Homo sapiens: one gene and its partners. The protein of the gene in region 3 interacts with the protein of the main gene of each other region in a pairwise test. Each region holds a gene or a part of one and is shown on either strand. Other genes may lie near its edges.

What was found.
Region 1: the proteins of KIR2DL3 (region 3) and SLC38A7 interact in binary tests that used the Homo sapiens proteins (3 or more experiments, as listed by UniProt).
Region 2: the proteins of KIR2DL3 (region 3) and OLFM4 interact in binary tests that used the Homo sapiens proteins (3 or more experiments, as listed by UniProt).

Annotation. Positions count from the first base shown.
Region 1 is NC_000016.10:58,667,771-58,674,797, reverse strand, and holds part of SLC38A7 (sodium-coupled neutral amino acid transporter 7), read left to right. Parts: intron 1-2,554; coding exon 2,555-2,702; intron 2,703-3,553; coding exon 3,554-3,753; exon of another isoform or gene 3,754-3,928; intron 3,929-4,630; coding exon 4,631-4,685; intron 4,686-7,027. UniProt on the Homo sapiens protein: Symporter that selectively cotransports sodium ions and amino acids, such as L-glutamine and L-asparagine from the lysosome into the cytoplasm and may participates in mTORC1 activation. The transport activity requires an acidic lysosomal lumen.
Region 2 is NC_000013.11:53,031,786-53,038,812, reverse strand, and holds part of OLFM4 (olfactomedin-4 precursor), read right to left. Parts: intron 4,466-7,027; coding exon 4,313-4,465; intron 1-4,312. UniProt on the Homo sapiens protein: May promote proliferation of pancreatic cancer cells by favoring the transition from the S to G2/M phase. In myeloid leukemic cell lines, inhibits cell growth and induces cell differentiation and apoptosis.
Region 3 is NC_000019.10:54,741,488-54,748,514, forward strand, and holds part of KIR2DL3 (killer cell immunoglobulin-like receptor 2DL3 precursor), read left to right. Parts: intron 1-492; coding exon 493-792; intron 793-2,307; coding exon 2,308-2,601; intron 2,602-5,847; coding exon 5,848-5,898; intron 5,899-7,027. UniProt on the Homo sapiens protein: Receptor on natural killer (NK) cells for HLA-C alleles (HLA-Cw1, HLA-Cw3 and HLA-Cw7). Inhibits the activity of NK cells thus preventing cell lysis.

The sequences.
Region 1 (7,027 bases), on a different chromosome or scaffold from region 3:
CTGCCTGGGCCAATACTGTTCTAGCCTCTGAATACACAGCCAGGAACAAGAGAGGCAAACAGCCAAATCCCTATTCTCCTGGGGCTCATGTCCTGGCTGGGGAGACAGAAAATAAGCCTGTAAAAATTAATTACTATTATTATTGTTATTATTTTTATTTGTATTATTGTTTACTTAAAGACCAGTGTGATAGTACAGTTAAAAAAAAATTAGAAAGCGATGAGGCCAGTCACAGTGGCTCACACCTATAATCTCAGCTATGGGAGGCCAAGGTGGGAGGTTCTCTGGAGCCCAGGAGTTCAAGACAGGCTGGGCAACATGGTGAAACTCCATCTCTACAAAAAATTTAAAAATTAGCCAGGTTATGGTAACATGCACCTGTGGACCCAGCTACTTGGGAGGCTGAGGTGGGAGGATCGCTTGAGCCTATGAGATCAAGGCTGTAGAGACCCATGATCATGCCATTACACTCCAAACTGGGCAACAGAGTGAGACCCTGTCTCTAAAAAAGAGAGAAATGAGTGTTAGGGGACAGGCCCAGTGGATCATGCCTGTAATCCCAACACTTTGAAAAGCTGAGATGGGAGAACCGCTTGAGGCCAGGAGTTCAAGACCAGCCTCGGCAACATAGTGAGACTCATCTCTACAAAAATTAAAGAATTAGCTGGGCGTCCGCCAGGCATGGTGGCTCACGCCTGTAATCCCAGGACTTTGAGAGGCCAAGGTGGGTGAATCACTTGAGGCCAGGAGTTCGAGACCAGCCTGGCCAACATGGCAAAACCCTGTCTCTATCAAAATTACAAAAATTAGCCGGGCGTGGTGGTGGTGCCTGTAATCCCAGCTACTCGGGAGGCTAAGGCATGAGAATCACTTGAACCTGGGAGGCCGAGGTTGCAGTGAGCCAAGATCGCGCCGCTGCACTCCAGCCTGGGGGAGAAAGTGAGACTCTGTCTTCAAAAAAAAAAAATTAGCCAGGCATGGTGGCATGTGCCTGTAGTCCCAGTGACTTGGGAGGCCAAGTCAGGAGGAACTTGAGTCTAAGAATTCAAGACTACAGTGGAACTATGATTGTACCACTTCACTCCAGCCTGAGTGACAGAGCAAGATCCTGTCTTTAAAAAAAAAAAAAAAAACGGCCAGGCACTGGGGCTCACGCCTGTGATCCCAGCACTTTGGGAGGCCCAGGCAGGCAGATCACATGAGGTCAGGAGTTCGAGACCAGCCCAACCAACATGGCGAAACCCCATCTTACTAAAAATAAAAAAATTAGGGCTGGGCGTGGTGGCTCACGCCTGTAATCCCAGCACTTCCCGAGGCAGGCGGATGACGAGGTCAGGAGTTCGAGACCAGCCTGGCCAACATAGTGAAACCTCATTTCTACTAAAAATACAAAAATTAGTCAGGCTTGGTGGCGGGCGCCTGTAATCCCAGCTACTCGGGAGTCTGTGGCAGGAGAATCACTTAAAACCAGAAGGCAGAGGTGGCAGTAAGCTGAAATCGCACCACTGCATTCCAGCCTGGGTGAAAGAGCAAAACTCCATCTCAAAAAAAAAAAAAAATTAGCCAGGTGTGGCGGCAGGTGACTGTAATCCCAGCTGCTTAGGAGGCTGAGGCATGAGAACCCAGGAGACCAAGATCATGCCATTGTACTCCAGCCTGGGCATGACAGAGCGCGACTCCATCTCAAAAAAAAAAAAAAAAAAAAAAAAAAAAATTAGCCGGGCATGGTGTAATCCCAGCTACTCAGGAGGCTGAGGCAGGAGAATCACTTGAACCTGGGAAGTGGAGGCTGCACTGAGCCGAGATCGTGCCACCGCGTGCCAGCCTGGGCAACAAGAGTGAAACTCCATCTCAAAAAAATAAAAAAGAAGAAGGCTGGGTGTAGTGGCTCACACTCTGGGAGGGTGAGGTAGGAGGATTACTTGAGCCCAGGAGTTCAAGACCAGACTGGGAAACGTAGCAAGACCCCATCTCTACAAGAAAATTAGCTGGGTGTGGTGGCATCTGCCTGTAGTCCTAGCTACCTGGGAGGCTCAGGTGGGAGAATCGCTTGAGCCGAGGAGGTCAAGGCTGCAGTGAGCCATGATCACACTACTGCGCTCTAGTCTGGGTAACAGGGCAAGACTCTGTCTCAAAAAAGAAAAGAAAAATAAGACAGCGTGATGTGAGAGAGTGCCTGGGGTGGGGGTCATTGTAGATGGACTGGCAGGAAGCATTCTCTGAGGAAGGACATCTAAACTGAGACCCAAATGATAAGGAGATGGCATCTGAAGGTCTGCCAGACAGAACAGTCAGTGCCAAGGCACTGAGGTGGGAATGTGCTGGGCAAGTTCAGGCTCAGAAAGCTGGGGGCTGGAGGGCTTCCAGCGATGGGGGATCTGAGAAGTCAGGGAGGGAGGCATCTGATCGGAGCCCCATCTCCCACTCTGAGCCTCCGTCTAAGTGTCCAGAGCTGCTGCTGCAGCCTCCAGGCTGATGTTGCTCCTAGGAGGAGTGGACAGTCCACCCCACTACCCTCCCAGGGTTGCCCTGACCCAGTTGTCCCTGCCCACAGGCATCTGTGGCTTCCTGACCTTTGGAGCTGCTGTGGATCCTGACGTGCTCCTGTCCTATCCCTCGGAGGACATGGCCGTGGCCGTTGCCCGAGCCTTCATCATCCTGAGCGTGCTCACCTCCTACCCTATCCTGCACTTCTGTGGGCGGTGAGCCCCCTTCCACTCCCCAGGGCCCCTCCTAGCCCCTGTGAGCGCTTCCAACATGGTCCTTTGGCCTTGTGTGGACCCCATCCTGTAGAAGGAGAAACTGAAGCCTGTAGAAAAGAGTCGGTGCCTAGGATGGGTCCCTACATATCCCAGGCCAGGTGTCAGAAGCGCCCTTTGTCCTGGGGTCACCAGAACATTCCGTGAGTCCTGTAAGAATCTCTATCCATGGCATGGCACGGTGGCTCACGTCTCTAAACCCAGCACTTTGGGAGGCTGAGGCAGAAGGATCGCTTGAGCCTGGGAGTTCAAGACCACCTGGGCAACCTAGTGAGACCCCATCTCTACACAAAATAAAATAAATAGCCAGGTGTGGTGGGATGCACCTGTGGTCCCAGCTACTCAGCCACTTGGGAGGCTGAGGCAGAAGGATGGCTGGAGCCCAGGAGTTCAAGGCTGCAGTGAGCCAAGATTGCACCACTGCACTCCAGCCTGGGTGAGAGAGCCAGACCCTGTCTCAAAAAAACAAAAAACAAAAGAATCTCTATCCAGATCCTTTCCTGAGCTTTCACATGGACACCCTCCCCTTTGGATGCCCCAGACAGTTCCTTTTAAGGAAAAAACAATATCAGTTTCCATGTGATGTAAAGCAAAGTGCTAAGCTCTCGACATTCACCGTCTCTAGTCCCTGTGGTAAACAGAGTGCTGGTGGCCCATTTTACAGAAGAGGAAACTGAGGGTCAGGAATGGGGCTTTCCCCGCAGTCTACCCAGTTAGGGGTCTGGCTCCTGTGAGCTAGAGGTGGGGAGCTGCTAGCAGCAGGGGCACCTCTAAGCCCTTCTCCATGTGGGCAGGGCGGTGGTGGAAGGCCTGTGGCTGCGCTACCAGGGGGTGCCAGTGGAGGAGGACGTGGGGCGGGAGCGGCGGCGGCGAGTGCTGCAGACGCTGGTCTGGTTCCTGCTCACCCTGCTGCTGGCGCTCTTCATCCCTGACATCGGCAAGGTGATCTCAGTCATTGGAGGCCTGGCCGCCTGCTTCATCTTCGTCTTCCCAGGTGCGGACCCCTGGCGCCCCATCTCACAGCCCCACAGCACAGACTCCCAGGGCCTGCCTAGCCTCAGCTCCCTACTTGCTCAAAACATGCAGGAGAGAGTAACCACCAGCACTAATTGATCACCTGTCTCGCCTCTGTACTAGCCCCTATCCAAGCATTATCTCCTGGAAAGAAGGTATAGTTGTGATCTCCAGTTTACTGATGGCACGTGGGGCTCAGAAAGGGTCACAGACTTGCCTAGAGCTTAACAAACTCAACTAGTAACCTTTTCCATCCCACGCTGTCTGGGTCCAGAGTCTATTCTTTTAACCATTCATTCAGGTGTCTGCTGCTCCTTGACTATGAGGGATCTATCTGGCTGGTTCAGCCCATTACAGCCCAGAGGGCAGTGGGGTCTGGGGTGGCACCCTGACACAGACATCAGGGAACCTGGGTTCCAGACACAGATCTACCGCCAGATCCCTGGAGAACTGTCCTGTCTGCCCAGCCATGAGTTCCACCCTTTTCCAGCTTGTCTCTATCCAGGAAGCCACCCTGAAAGCCCCAGCTGCTTTGCTTGGAGCAGGGGAGCCAGATCTGCTGGGAAGTGTACTAGGAAGACCCCTGGGGTTGGGCCACCACTGAGTCACCATTGAGTGCTGTCCCTTTAGCTGAGTCTAGCATGCTGCCCAAGGGGTCTTGTCAGATGCCAGCCTGTCATGGGAGAGCAGATGCCAGATGACCCCAGCAGGATGTGGTGTGGGGGCAGAGATGGAATTTCTAGAAGAGTAAACATGGGCCTTTCTCCATCCAGCACTGCTTCTTGGGAAAGGAGGTGGCTAGGAGGGAGGGAGCCCTCTCCCCTCACAAATGCTCAGGGCCACTTCTTCTCTTTCAGGGCTGTGCCTCATTCAAGCCAAACTCTCTGAGATGGAAGAGGTCAAACCAGCCAGGTAAAGCAGGACCCAGCCCTTGATCCTCTCAGGGAGGTGCTGGATTGGAATGTGGCTTTGTGGGGGCCTTAAAACAGATAGGAGTCAGAGGCTTGTGTACTTAGAAATCATGGGTTTTTGTTTTGTTTTTTTTTTTTTGAGCCGGAGTCTCGCTGTGTCGCCCAGCCTGGAGTGCAGTGGCACGATCTCAGCTCACTGCAAGCTCCGCCTCCTGGGTTCACACCATTCTCGTGCCTCAGCCTCCCGAGTAGCTAGGACTACAGATGCCTGCCACCACACCCAGCTAATTTTTGTATTTTTAGTAGAGACGAGGTTTCACCATGTTGGCCAGGCCGGTCTCGAACTCCTGACCTTAGGTGATCCTCCTTCCTCGGCCTCCCAAAGTGCTGGCATTACAGGCGTGAGCCACCACACCCAGCCAGGTTGTTGTTGTTTTTTTTTTAATACTTTTAAAAATTCGGTAGTGTGCTAGTTGTTAACAATTTAAACATTAATAAAGGGCTTAATACAAAAAGATGGAAGTCCCTCTTCCCCCACAACCCACTCGCCCCCACATCCTTTCTGAGATAGCTCCATGTTACCAGTATGGTCTGTGTCCTCAACCACTTCTGTACATGTGTGCGTGTCTGTGTACACATAGCTATGGAGATGTATACATAGATGCAGGGCTCTTGTTTTGTTTTATGAAAAGTGGTTTCAGCCAGGTGCATTGGCTCATGCCTGTAATCCCAGCACTTTGGGAGGCCAACATGGGCAGATCACCCGAGGTCAGGAGTTCGAGACCAGCCTGACCAACATGGTGAAACCCCATCTCTACTAAAAATACAAAATTAGCTGGGCATGGTGGCACCTGCCTGTAATCCCAGCTACTTGGGAGACTGAGGCAGGAGAATTGCTTGAACCCAGGAGGCGGAGGTTGCAGTGAGCCGAGATCACACCATTACACTCCAGCCTGGGCAACAAGAGGGAAACTCTGTCTCAAAAAAAAAAAAAAAAAAAAAAAAAAAAAGCCATACAAACATGTCTAAAAAAGAAAAAAAATTGGCCAGGCACAGTGACTCACGCCTGTAATCCCAGCACTTTGGGAGGCCAAGACAGGCAGATCACCTGAGGTCAGGAGTTCGAGACCAGCCTGGCCAACATGGCAAAACCCCGTCTTTACTAAAAATACAAAAATTACCTGGTTGTGGTGGCGCATGCCTGTAGTCCTAGCTCGGGAGGCTGAGGTAGGAGAATTGCTTGAACCCCGGAGGCGGAGGTTGCAGTAAGTGGAGATCGCACCACTGCACTCCAGCCTGGGTGATAGCAAAACTCTGTCTCAAAAAAAGAAAAAGAAGAAGAAGAAAAAAAATCACCCTTTATTTCTTTTTTTTTTGTCTTTTTTTTTTTTTTTTTTTTTGAGATGGAGTTTCACTCGTTGCCCAGGCTGGAGTGCAATGGCGCGATCTCTGCTCACTACAACAACCTCCACCTCCCGGGTTCAAGCGATTCTCCTGCCTCAGCCTCCTGAGTAGCTTGGATTACAGGCGCCCACCACCACACCCAGCTAATTTTTTGGGTTTGTTGTTGTTGTTTTGAGATGGAATCTCGCTCTGTCACCCAGGCTGGAGTGCAGTGGCATGATCTCGGCTCACTGCAACCTCCAGGGTATCTGGGATTACAGGTGCGCAGCACCATGCCTGGCTAATTTTTGTATTTTTGGTAGAGACGGGGTTTCACCATGTTGGCTAGGCTGATCTCGAACTCCTGACCTCAGGTGATCCGCCCACCTTGGCCTCCCAAAGTTCTGGGATTACAGGCGTGAGCCACCATACCCAGCCATTTTTTGTATTTTTTTAGTAGAGACGGGGTTTCACCACGCTGGCCAGGCTGGTCTCAAACTCCTGACCTCAGGTGATCCACCTGCCTTGGCCTCCCAAAGTGCTGGGATTATAGACATGAGCCACCACACCCAGCCTAATTTTTCTATTTTTAGTAGAGATGGGGTTTCGCCATCTTGCCCAGGCTGGTCTTGAACTCCTGACCTCAGGTGATCCATCTGCCTCGGCCTCCCAAAGTGCTGGAATTACAGACATGAGCCACTGCACCCAGCCTAATTTTTCTGTTTTTAGTAGAGATGGGGTTTTGCCATCTTGCCCAGGCTGGTCTCGAACTCCTGACCTCAGGTTGCCCGCCTTGGCCTCCCAAAGTGCTGGGATTACAGGTGTGAGCCACCACACCCGGCCGGAAATCACCCTTTATTTCAATTCCGTTTTATCCCTGTTGCTGTTAATTGGTACATACATTTGCAGATGTCTGCTTTTTGTTTCCTTTTTTTAATGAAATAGACCACATTCCATGTG
Region 2 (7,027 bases), on a different chromosome or scaffold from region 3:
CATATATGAATCTGTAGCTTTGGGAATGCGTGGACAATGCTGACCACATGTCAGCTCCTCCTGGGAGGTGCAGTCTTGGGAGAGGCAGCCCAGCCTGCCTGGGAGCCTCCAGTCCCACATCTGGCACTTGGGGCACTTTCTGCATTTTTTTCTTCTTCTGGAAAATACAGTCATTTGCTGCATAACATTTTTGTCTATGACAGACTGCATATATGACAGTGGTCCCATGAGATTATAAATATCATATTTTTACTGTACCTTTTCTATGTTTAGATATATATGCACACACAAAAACTTACCATTGTATTATAATTGCCTACATTATTCAGTACAGTCACAGGCTGTACAGGTTTGTAGCCTGGCAATAGGCTATATCATATAGCCTGAGTGTGTAGTTGGCTACACCCTCTAGGTTTGTGTAAGTATACAATGACGTTCACCAATGTTAAAATCACCTAACGATGCATTTATCAGAACATGTCCCTGTCTTTAGCTGACCTATGGCTGTATTTTGATCTAGAAAAGTGGTTCTAAATGGAGGGAGGGCGGTAGTGGTGGTGATTTTGTCCTGGTTCTCATAACTGGGGGGTGGGCGAGTGCTATTGGCATCTAAAGACCAGGGACGCTGCTAAACATTCTATCAAGAATATGGGTCTAGCCTTGAGGAGACACGTCCTGTGTCAACATCTTTATCTCGAAGCTCCTCATCATGACAAGTCTGAGCACTAGATGGCTCATCTATGTTTTAGTTGAGCCTTTAAGCCACCAGCCTAACATTCACAGCTTCCATTTTATTTTGCTTGTTATGCACATACTATATCATTGATGAGGAATAAAATTTGTGTGAGCGTTGATTTGAGGGTGCCTGTTATTGTTCCTTATAATTAATGTGGTCTTGTAATAAATAAGGGTGTAGTGCTAGCAAGCTAAAGAATTAATCTGGTTCATGTTTCTGCCAGTCTCTCAAAACCTGTGATTATAACTATGGCCAGACTATTTGAAATAAGTACGTTTACTTTGCAACATACTACTATTTTCAATATATGTTTCAAAGTAAACGTAACAGGGTTCATTGAGCCTGGAGTGATTGTAAAGACATATAAAGTACTTTGGAGCTAGACCCAACTAGACTCAAATCTAACTTCAGTACTTAGTGGGCAAATCACTTAATTTCTTTAACCCTTAGTTTCCTGTAAACTGGGGGTAATGATACTGAGCTTACAAGATTATCATAAAGACTAGAGATAATGTACGTTAAGTGCCTAGTTAATGGAGGCCCTATGAATTATAGAAATTAATAGAGAAACAGTAATTTCAGCATTTTCCAATCTGACCTTTTAATTTATTATATTTCACTATACAAATACGGCTCAATCAATGTTATTTCTTTATGGGTTGCCTTAATGTCTCCTAGGCTGCCTCAACCTTCCCGTGCATGAGGATCTACTAGCAAATGTGTCATATTAAATAACTCATGCCAAAGACCATAAGCCTCCAGAGAAAGAGAAAATCCTGAGCTGCCTTTTGTGCCATCCCTTTCCTAAGTATAGTCACAAAAGGACATACCGTAAACAACAGAAAAGTATAAAATGCTTTCAGCATCTTATGCAGAGGCAGCTCCCTGTCTTCTCTGTGTACTGACAGACAATGAATCAATGTAAGGCAGTCAAAAACCTTTTCTACTGGCCTGTCCTAAACGGGCATTCTCCCAGGCCCCCGGATAAATGACAATTTTCAAGGCAACCTAGGGACAGCTGTAATAACTCACTTGGAAATTCGAAAGCCCTCAGCTAAAGGGATAACTTTGGATTTGAAGGCATTACTACTGCATCTCTTCCTGGGCCTACCTTGGAGGATGCTAACAGCATGGCCAAGAGGAAAGAGAGTTGAGATGATTTTGAAGACTCGAATTCTGACCTGGCTTAACCAGCCAAGAGAGGAATGACCTTGGGCAAGTCTCCTTACCTTTATGAACTGCAGTTTTACTGTCTCTAAAATGGGAGAGACAACACCTGGCCTATCTGCCTTAAAGGGTTACTTGAGAGGAGAGAATAGAACTGGAAGCATTTGAAAAAGCACAAACAAACTGCTACTATTATTGTTGTTATTATCACCTGTCACACTAAATCGATTATATAAATCCTAGCTAGCAGATAAACTTTTTTCTTAGGCCACAATCACAGTTTTTTTGGGATCAGAGCAGCCACCGACACATTCAGAACTAAAACTTTCCCACCTATTCTGCACTTCTTCCCTATCTGTCATTAGCAAAGCAGATGTTACCAGCCCCCCGTACAGTATTGGAATTAAATGTCCCATATTCACAAACCTGGCAAGCCACATACTCTCCCTGGAGCACATAAGGTTTCAAACTGCCTTTCACACTGCTGCCAGCAAAGACAACATGTAAATCAGTAGTTTCCACTATTTCAAAGCAAATGACTCTAACTGAAAAGATCTTTACCTAGGATTTTCCTCTACTTGTTATGTTTTTATGCATAACTTCTTATCTGTACTTGATTATGCTGGAATAAGGCTATGAATATTAATGGTTAGAATTTATAATTTAATGCTGTGCCTTTTCCACTGATTAATTCAAGGACATTATATTTCTTAAGCAGCTAGGTTTCTAGAGTAGTCAAACACATTTTCCTGGACACTCATTTAAACTTAGAATATTTATCTACCAATTCAGGCTGAAAGTAGGGTCTCAGCCTCATCATAATTTTTGTTTTAAAGGATAACTATGTTGGATGTTGAGGTGGCAAAGCTCAAATTTCTTAGGAAAACTTATTCTGAATCTTGCAGTAAAGCCAGAGCTCCTTGTAAATTAATGGAGTTGTATTAAATAATGCATAATGTGATTATAGACTAGCTTGGACTTCACCTGTGCAGAAAATAGGAACTTTTCTAATTGATTTTTAACTTGGGCTGAAAAGGTGGAAGGAGTCAAAACTAGAACACCAAGTCACATTGCTCCAGCCAGCCCAGAGAAAGGCAAACCCTTTAAGATAACTTCCTCTGGCTAAAGAAAAAAACAGTAATCAGAGTTCAAGTCAGTGTTTTTACCAAGGCTGAGAAACCTATTAGTCTTGATTCAAATTCCCAGGGAAGCCTTCAATTTTTGTCTAATATTGGACACATCAAATGTAATGTTCCTGCTGAGACAATAGAAGATAACCATCAAGAAAGAGATGGAGGGTGAGGATGGAAGTGGGGATAGTTAAAGGGTAAAAAATAAAAGTAGTTAGAAAGAATAAATAAGACCTAGTATTCAACAGCACAACAGGGTGACTATAGTCCATAATAATTTCATTGTACATTTTAAAATAAGTAAAAGAGTCTAATTGGATGGTTTGTAACACAAAAGATAAATGCTTGAGGGGATGGACACTCCATTTTCCATGATGTGATTATTACGCATTGCATGCCTGTCTCAGGGTATCTCATGTACCCCATTAATACATACACCTACTATACACCAAAAAAAAATAAGATTAAAAATAAAGAGACTACAACCTTGGATTTCACTTGGAGAAAATAGAAAAAAATAAAAGAGACTACAACTTATTGTCACAAAAAAAGAGAGTGAGGGGGAGAGAGAAGGAAGTGAGCAATTTGTAAAGATAAAAAAGGGTTAAAGGAAAGAGAGAGGGAGGGAGGAGGATGAGAGGGAGAGGATTTGAAGGAGTGGAAGTGGAGGAAGGGAAAAGAAGGAGGGAAAAAAAGATCATCTAAAAGTAAGAAAATACCCAAAAATGTCCCCCCCAAAAAAGAATTAACCAGGAAAGGAAAAGAGAGATTAGAAGGGATGAATAAGGGCAAGGATTGAGGCAAGAGAAATAAGAAACTAAAGGATGCAGGAATGGAATAGAAATAGAAGAAAAGGAAAAAGAGAAGGGAGATAGAATAGAACTAAAGGGGATAGAGGAGAAGAAAGAAAAGAAAGCAAAGCTTGAGGAAAGACCTAGAAGACCAAAAGGAAGAAGCAGCGTCAAAACAAAATAAAAATTGCAGGTTGGGGTTTGCAAGGAGAGCTCAAGGCTTCTTTCCAACTGCCTAAGTACCACAATACTATAGTGAGTTTATCCACGGCGTGAACAATTTGAACCCCACTTTCTTCCTGTGCTCTCATTTTCCCTGCCTTAATAAGAACTCCATTGGTGTCCTATAAAATAAATACTAAAATCACCATAGAATAAAAACGTGATGTCTTTGATAGTGAAGAATGATTGCTTATAAAATCCTAAATTAAAACACATTTTGTTTTGTTTCTCTTTATCAAGATATTGTTTGAAAAGAAAATGCTTACTTTGGAAAGTTCTTTCTCAAACTTCTGAGAAAGAACATGAGCTGTGAATTCCAAGCGTTCCACTCTGTCCACGGGAAAGGTGGTGTCTGGCAGGGAAACAGAGCACTGGCAGGTCCCACGGTCATCCACGGAGCCGGTGAAATTGGAAAACAACTGCAAATAATAACAAGTTGAACATCAATAACAAGCTGGAATCTGAGCTTTTGGCAACTGGAGTGACAGAAATTGGCTTGTCGAGAGTACTTACAGGCAAGTAAGTGGAGTCCAATACATAAATGAATAGAATCATAGAAACAAGCTAAAACAGCTTTGTTTTCACAGGTGGGGACCACCCAGCGTTTAGCCACATCGCCACTGGTTGTACGAAAACCACTACGCCAGCAGACTTTACCTAAAGGAAGATTCCCCATTCTCGAGGCTTTTTTTTTTTTTTTTTTTTTTTTTGAGACGGAGTCTCACTCTGTCGCCCAGGCTGGAGTGCAGTGGCGCGATCTCGGCTCACTGCAAGCTCCGGCTCCCGGGTTTACTCTATGCTCCTGCCTCAGCCTCCCAAGTAGCTGGGACTACAGCCCGCCACCACGCCTGGCTAATTTTTTGTATTTTCAGTAGAGACGGAGTTTCACCGTGTTAGCCAGGGTGGTCTCGATCTCCTGACCTCGTGATCCACCCACCTCGGCCTCCCAAAGTGCTGGGATTACAGGCGTGAGCCACCGCGCCCGGCCATTCTGGAGTCTTAAAGGAGATTATTCCTATCTCTATGCAAGGAAAGGGAAATAAAGAAGCTATGAGAGTGCTAAGTTTGAATTTCAATTCTAGCACTTGCTAGATGTGAAATCTCCTTAATTCTTAGTTCCTTCATCTGTAAAATAGAGATAACCTACTTCACAGGGTTGTCCTCAGTATTAACGAAGTAATGTGAGCCAAGTCCCTGGCACAGAGTAGGTGATCTGAAAATGTCACATTCTCTTTCCTTCTACTGCTCATTTTCTCTTCCTCACCTTCACCCCAACCCAATCCAATTCCTTTTCATCAGAATGAGGGAATCACCAAAGATGTGGGCTACAGTGAAAATATATGATGCAAATTCATATCCTCTCATCGCCTGGGAAATTGCAAATTAACATCCTTCAAAATGGGAACCAGCCATTTGTTAGAAAGTGAATAGCGTATGAGCTTGAAGGTTTTGTGCAATTTTTTTTAATAAAAGTTTTTTTCCAGCTTACCATTTGCAGAAAAAGTCATTTTAAAATATTTTATGTTCATTTAAGATATTCAGACTCACACTTCAGTGCCACCGCATATTTTTAAATGACACTTTTGAAAGATCCTGTTTTTCTTTTGTCCCCTTTGAACTTCCCCAAGAGGATCCCAGCACAATTAACATTTTTTTATTACTACTATTGCCTTACAGAGTAACCCTTGGCAGCCAATTTGCTGTGCCTTTTAATGATCTCATCTGAAAGCCAACCCAAAGCTCACCTGTGGAACATCAGCCTGAAGGGACTTTTTATGAAACCTCTAAGGAGACAGCAATGGTCTTCAGAGCCAGAAGTGACTCTGGCCATGTCTCTCAAAGTTCAGGTCAGCCAGCTGCAGGTGGTGTAATGGGTCCTGTGCATTTAATGGCCACCAACCTCCATAATGCCTGATCAAGCTGGGTCTAGATGCTTCTATAATGAAGACTTATTTTATCACTGGCCTCGGGGCCAATCAAGGCTTTTGCATCTAAGTTGTTTTTAATTTAATTTAAGTTTCAAGATGAGCAGAAAAAAAAAATATGTGTGTGTATCCAATCATATTTTTTATGTGTTTAGTCAAAATTTATTACCTTGGTCTCAATTTTCTTTTCCAATCACATCCCTACGTGGGAAACAGTTCAGGAGTAGGGAGGAGAAACAAGCAGATTTATGTCGAACATAGGGGTGGACAGCAGGGTTTGAATAGGGGAAGGGTCTTTGCCAGAGATGAATAAAGACTCGGTAAGATACACCAGGAACCTATCAGAGAGGCCAGCTTCCCTTGAAACCAGCTTTACTCATTTCTCCAAAGATAGAAAGACTCCAACTCAAGCATGCCAAGGCTTTTACAGAAAAGACCGACATATCAAGGACTTTTGAAGAAATAGCTTATTATAATAACAGTCTAGCAAAAAAAAAATCTTGCATTGCATTTTAACAAGGGGAGTTTAATTAGCTGCACAAACAGGGTTGGGCCATTCTCAGAGTTCTCTGAAAAATTCTGCCAACTCAGAAAACAGTGGATATCATCAAGCAATCTCTAGACAGTCAATTAGGAACCACTAGCTAACAACTTTTAGTCCTGAAGTTCACTTGAAAGACAGACAAGTAATTATGAGCCCTGCTGTCAGCCATTCCATCGGTTTCTATTGAACATCTCTGTCCCAAAGCTGTGGACTCCCCCAGCTTCCATCCTGCTTATCATCAGCCCAGCATGCTCAGCTGACATCAAAATGGTCCATAAGTTTGATCAGTGTCTCCCATTAGAGATATTTCTGCTCCTCGCATTCAAAGACAATGAAGCTAATGGTGATGAGTCTCTCTCTGCGGTGAATGCCCAAACTCTACATGAATGAAGCATGGGGGATGGGAGACAAAGACAAGAGCTTGTCCCCTTGGCCTTTGGAAGAATATGCGATTCCCCTTCTGTAGGGCAAATAGGACCCTGAGTACCTCACAAGACACCTTATATTGGTAG
Region 3 (7,027 bases):
TGGAAGCTGGCACCATGGAGAAGGCACAGGCATGGCAAGAGTGGCTCCCAGTCCCCACCAGGAACAGGGTGTGTGGACACTGGTGCCTGCCTTATTCATCAGTTCATACCTTCTGCCAAGGATTGCAATTCATCCAAAAGAGATTGAACCAGGCTGATAAGAGCCTGGATGTGCAGCCTATCCTGGTTCCTCTTTCACCCCCACATAAACAGCAGGAAATACATTAGTGTGAAATAGATACAACACCCCAAGAGATGAGGCTCAGCCCAGTGGGAAGGGAATCAGAGGCTACTAGAGACAGAGGGACAGAGAAGAGGGAGGGAGACAGATGGAAGGACCTGCACCAGGAGTTAAGGGCACAGAAAAGAACATGAAGACACAGAGAGGAAGGAGAGAGACAGACACCAGCAAGGGGAAGCCTCACTCATTCTAGGTGCCATGGATGGGATGATAAAGAGAGACACCTTCTAAACTCACAACCTCTCTTCCTAGGAGTCCACAGAAAACCTTCCCTCCTGGCCCACCCAGGTCCCCTGGTGAAATCAGAAGAGACAGTCATCCTGCAATGTTGGTCAGATGTCAGGTTTCAGCACTTCCTTCTGCACAGAGAAGGGAAGTTTAAGGACACTTTGCACCTCATTGGAGAGCACCATGATGGGGTCTCCAAGGCCAACTTCTCCATCGGTCCCATGATGCAAGACCTTGCAGGGACCTACAGATGCTACGGTTCTGTTACTCACTCCCCCTATCAGTTGTCAGCTCCCAGTGACCCTCTGGACATCGTCATCACAGGTGAGAGTGTCCGGACATTCTCATTGTCATTGGGATGCAGAGTGAATGATCCACGACTTGGAACCCCCAGGTAGTTGTAAGGAAGATGAGCTTGGTATTCTTATGGAGAGAGACTGACTTGCTGAGGTTTGTACCAACAGAGACAGAGAAACAGGAGACACAAGTACAGACCAGGTGTCATAACAGAGGACAGACACAGGGGCCATACAGGGAGTTAGAAAAGACAGAAAGAGTTAAAAGAGACAGACAGACAGACATGTCCCAGAGAGAGGTGTCCCTCCATGCTGACTTTGCTCACAGACCTGGCACAGGTTAGAAGTTTCATTTCTGTTTTACCTCCACAAAGTGTTCTCTACCAGGAGAACCCAAGGACACCCATATTTATGACCTGAGTTGGGCCCTGTGGCCTCAGGCCTTGTGGCACCTACAGGCCATGTTTATTCTGACACCTCTGCCTTCCATGTAATGGAGAGTAATCGTCCCAGGATATCATGGCCCCAGAACACCAACCCCTGTATGCTGTGTGAACTTGTGGTCTCCAGACTGGATTCTGTGGCTCACATTCCAAATAACCCCACATATGAAAGGATCACTGAGAGGCACAGAGAAAAATCAGGAACACCAAAAAGCAAAGACATAAACACACAGAGAATGAGCCAGAGGAAGGAGATTGAGAGACTCACAGACACATAAAGAGAGAGAAAAGAGGGCAGAGGAGTGGTGAGAATGATGGCAGGGAGCAGAGAAAAGCACTAAAATTAGAGTCCTGAGAGAGAGGCACAAGGACATAGAAACATGGAGATGTGGGGATGAATTGCAGAGATTCCAAAGAGAACTAGAGAGACCGAGAGGCAGAGCAAGACAGATGATAGATGGATAGATATAGATAGATGATAAATAGGTAGATGATAGATAATAGGTTAAAGATACATAGATGATGATTGATTGATTCATTAATAGATAATACATAGAGATGATGATGATGAAGACAGATAATACGTACAGATAGAGAGGCAGACAGAAATCATAGAGAGAGAGATGATACATACATATAAATAACAGATGATTGATGGATAGATAGACAAGTGATAGATACATAGATGATATATAGATATAGATGACAGGTAGAGAATTTGTAGATAGGCACCGAATAGATAAATAGATAGATCGACAGATAATAGATAGAAATATGCAGAAAGTTATGAACAGGACACAACGTGAGAAACTTAGAATTTAAAAAAGTAACATCAAGTCAACCAATCCAAGGAGAGTCAGAGAGAATAAAAGAATCCAAAAAGGGAAAACATATCTAGAGGTGGGGAAGCGAGGTCAGAGACCTAGAGAGACAGAGAAGGTGGAAGAAGGAAATAGACATGAAGAGAGATGGGGTGGAGGGTGAGAGAGAGAGAGAGAGAGAGCATTAGGTCATAGAGCAGGGGAGTGAGTTCTCAGCTCAGGTGAAGGGAGCTGTGACAAGGAAGATCCTCCGTAAGGAAAATGCCTCTTCTCCTCCAGGTCTATATGAGAAACCTTCTCTCTCAGCCCAGCCGGGCCCCACGGTTCTGGCAGGAGAGAGCGTGACCTTGTCCTGCAGCTCCCGGAGCTCCTATGACATGTACCATCTATCCAGGGAGGGGGAGGCCCATGAACGTAGGTTCTCTGCAGGGCCCAAGGTCAACGGAACATTCCAGGCCGACTTTCCTCTGGGCCCTGCCACCCACGGAGGAACCTACAGATGCTTCGGCTCTTTCCGTGACTCTCCATACGAGTGGTCAAACTCGAGTGACCCACTGCTTGTTTCTGTCACAGGTGAGGAAACCCCATATCTGTCTCATGTCCTATGATCCTAGAGCCTTAGCTGAGGAGCTTCCTGCTGATGATGGAGAGAAGCATGGACAGATGCAGAGAGAAGACGAAGCTTGGGTGTGAGGGAGGGATCAGGGCACAGGATGGCAGACAGGGCACCTCCAAACCCTCCTACACGGCCTGCATGAAGGCCCGCGGCCAGGGCTCCAGGCACACAGGCAGATGGAGAAAACGGTCAGGAGAGACCCAGAGGAGAGAGACTGGGCTCAGTTTGGGAAGATCAGAGGTTCCCTCAGCCCCTCAACATTACCCATTTCCCAGAAGCCCATCCTGGCCTCTCACCCACACAGGGATGTCATCACCAGCAACCCCTACACCCTTTACTTTTGTTTGAAGAAATATTTATTGAGGATAAATATACCTATATAGCTTACCACCTTTAACATTTTTTTTTTTTTTGAGGCAGAGTCTAGCTCTGTCCCCTATGCTGGAGTGCAGTGGCACAATCTCAGCTCACTGCAACTTCCGCCTCCTGGGTTCAAGTGATTCTCCTGCTTCAGCCACCTGAGTAGCTGGTGCTACAGGCGCGCACCACCACGCCAGGCTACTTTTTGTATTTTTAGTAGAGAGGGGGTTTCACCATGTTGGTCGAGCTGGTCTCCAACTCCTGACCACGTGATCCACCCGCATCTGCCTCCCAAAGTGCTGGGATTACAGGCATGAGCCACCACGCCCAGCCACATTTACCATTTTTAAGTGTAAAGTCTAGTGGTCATAAATACATTTATATATATATATATATATATATATATACACACACACACACATATATAAACATATATATATATATATATATATATATATATATATTTTTTTTTTTTTTTTTTTTTTTACCCTCCACCCTTTTATTCCTGGCCTCTGGAAGCCACCATTCTACTCTCTACCTTCATGAGATCCACCTTTTAGCTCTGTATATGGGTGAGAAATGGGAATCTTTGTAATGACTTCCAGTTCCATCCATGTGGCTGCAAATATCAGGATGTTATTCTTTCTATGGATGAGTAGTCTCCACTGTGCGTATGTACTACATTCTCTCTATCCATTCATCCACTGATGGGCAGGTAGGTTGACTCCACATCTTGGCTACTGTGAACAGTGCTGCACCAATCATACGAGTGCAGATATCACTTCGATATATTGATTTACTTTCCTTTGGATATAAACCCAGTAGTGAAATTGCTGGATACTATGAAAGTTCTCTTTTTAGTTATTCGTTTGTTGTTTTGTTTTTGTTTTTGAGACAGTTTCCCTCTGTGCCCAGGCTGGAGTACAAGTGAAGTCATCTTGGCTCATTGCAACCTCCGCCTCCTGGGTTCAAATGATTTTCCTGCCTCAGCCTCCCTAGTAGCTGGGATTACAGGTGCACGCCACCATGCCTGGCTACTTTTTGTTTTTTTTAGTATAGATGGGGTTTCCCCATGTTGGCTGGGCTGCTCTCAAACTCATGACCTCAACTGAGGTGCCCGCCTCGGTCTCCCAAAGTGCCGGGATTACAGGCATGATCCACCTCACCCAACCTCTTTTTAGTTCTTTAAAGGACTTCCACACTTTTCTCCGTAAAGGCTGTACTAATTTACACTCCTACCAACAGGGTATTAGGGTTCTCCTTTCTCTACCACTTTGGCAGGATTTCCTTTGCCTGTCTTGCAGCTAAAAGCCATTTTATTTTATTTCATTTTATTTTGAGATGGAGTTTCGCTCTTGTCACCCAGGCTGGAGTGCAGTGGTGCGATCTCGGCTCACCACAACCTCCACCTCCCAGGTTCAAGCGATTCTCCTGCCTCAGCCTCCCGAGTAGCTGGAATTACAGGCACACGCCACCACGCCCAACTAAATTTTGTATTTTTAGTAGAGACAGTGTTTCTTCATGTGGGTCAGACTGGTCTCAAACTCCCGACCTTATGAGGTTCACCCACCTCAGGCTCTCAAAGGTCTAGGATGACAGACGTGAGCCACCACGCCCGGCCTAAAATCCATTTTAATGGGGTGAGATGAAAACTCACTTTGATTTTAATTTGTGTTTCTCTGATGATGAGTGAAACTGAGCACTTTTTAGTATGTGGGGAAATTTCATGTGTTTTGCTCCTTTTTCAATTAAATCGTTTGTTTTATTGAGTTGTTTGAGCTTCTTATATTTCTAGTTATTAATCCCATCTCAGATGCATAGTTTGCACATATTTGCTCCCAATCTGTGGGTTGTCTCTTCACTTTGTTGGTTTATTTTTAGCGGTGCAGAAGTTGCTTAGTTTGAGGTAATCCCAATGGTCTATTTTTGCTTCGATTACTTGTGTTTTGAAGGTTTAAAACAAAATGTCTTCCTTCAGACAAATGTCCTGGAGCATTTCCCCAATATTTTCTTCTACGTGTTTCATAGGTTCAGGCCTTAGACTCACATCTTTAATCCATTTTCATTTGAGTTTTGTGTATAGTGACAGGTAGAGGTGCAGTTTCATTCCTCTGCATGTAGATGTCCAGGTTTCCCTGCACTGTTTATTGAAAAGACTGTCCTTTCCTGATTGTGAGTTCTTGGCACCTTTGTCAAAGTCCATTGGATGGGCTGGGCATGGTGGCTGACACCTGCAATTTCAGCACTTTGGGAGCCCAAGGCGGGTGGATCACCTGAGGCCAGGAGTTCAAGATTAGTCTGGCCGACGTGATGAAACATTGTCTCCACTAAAAATATAAAAATTAGCTGAGCATGGTGGTCAGCACCTGTAATACCACTACTCAGGAGTTTGAGGCCAGAGAATTGATTGAACCCAGGAGGCTGTGGTGGCAGTGAACCGAGATTGCACCTCTGCACTCCAGCCTGGGTGACAGAGCGAGACTCCATCTCAAAAGAAAAAAGAAAAAAACATTGGAGGTAAATGCATGGATTATATCTGTGTTCTTCATTCTGCTCCATTGTTCTACGTGCCTTTCTTTATGCCAATGTGATGCTGTTTTGCTTACTACAGCTCTGTAACATATTTTGAGATCAGGTAGTGTGATGCTCCTGTTTTCTCTTTATACCTTGAAGTCTCAAGACAGTGGGCGTCACATACAAAAATTACGGAAAAAAGGATCCCAGGACTCCCAGGGCCCAATATTAGATAACAGAGTGTTGGCCATGAACCAACCTCAAAGATTTCCATTGAGTAGAGGACAGACACCCTCATTTCCTCACCTCTCTCCTGTCTCGTGTTCTAGGAAACCCTTCAAATAGTTGGCCTTCACCCACTGAACCAAGCTCCGAAACCGGTGAGTACAGAACCCTCTTATATCCGCTTTTGGAAACCTGGGGAGGTAGAAACCTTCGATGCAGGCATTGACTCAGCATCTCGCAGCTCTGACATTGTACGCCTGTCTTCTACCATCTCCGAACTCCAGATACTCCAACAGCGAAAGGGATCTGGGCCCAACCTAGGGCTCAGTGAAATCTCTTAATCTCTCATTTTATGGAGCTGAGACCTCCTACAAGCTAGAAGAATGATTGCCAATCTGACATCCTTCTCAGGAAAAATGCAATGTTTGTTCTGCCTGCATTCCTAACTGGAGGATAAATTCCTGGGGGCTTGAGAGAGGGAAGGGAAGGGAACATCTGATGAGGGCGAGGTGTTTTAGAGAAGTTCCACTTGCCAAGGAATGAATTACTGTTGGTCATGAAGCAACCCTGGCTGACTCAGCAGAGCAACAGCCTTGCCGTAACAGAGAACGGAGCTCATGCACGCACACTTCGACTCACTGACTCATTCAGCCACGGCCCCATGCTCAGGCTGTGCAGTGCGGAACCTTTTCCTATTGTTGCCATAACAAATTTCCACAAGATTCGTGGGTGAAAACAAAACGGTTTTTTAATTATCTTACAGTGCTGTAGCTCAAAGTAGGAAGTGCATCTTACTGGGCTAAAATCAAGGTGACAGCAAGGCTGCCTTCCCTCTGAGGATTCCAGGCAAGAATCTGCTTCTCACTTATCCCAGCTTCTAAAGGCTCCCAGTTCCTTGGCTCCTGTTCCCCTTCCTCCTTCCTCAAAGCCCACAAAGACTGGTCACATCTCACATGGCATCACTCAGTGCCTTCTTCCTTACCACACCTCTTTCTCTGAATGCTGCTCTCCCTTCTTCCTTATCTTTTGAAAACTTGGGGATTCTATTGGGTTCACCAAGATGAAAATCCCTCATAATCTCCTGGAAATCATCCAGGATACCCTTGTTTTAAGTTCAGCTGATTAGCAACCGCAATTCCATCTACAATCTTCATTCCTCCTTTCCATGTAAAATAACATATTCACAAGCTATGGAGGCTAGGACAGGGACATTTTGGGGTGGGACAGCATTCTCCTGCCTTCCACAAACGGTGAACAAGATGCATTTGGCTTCTGCCCTTGGGA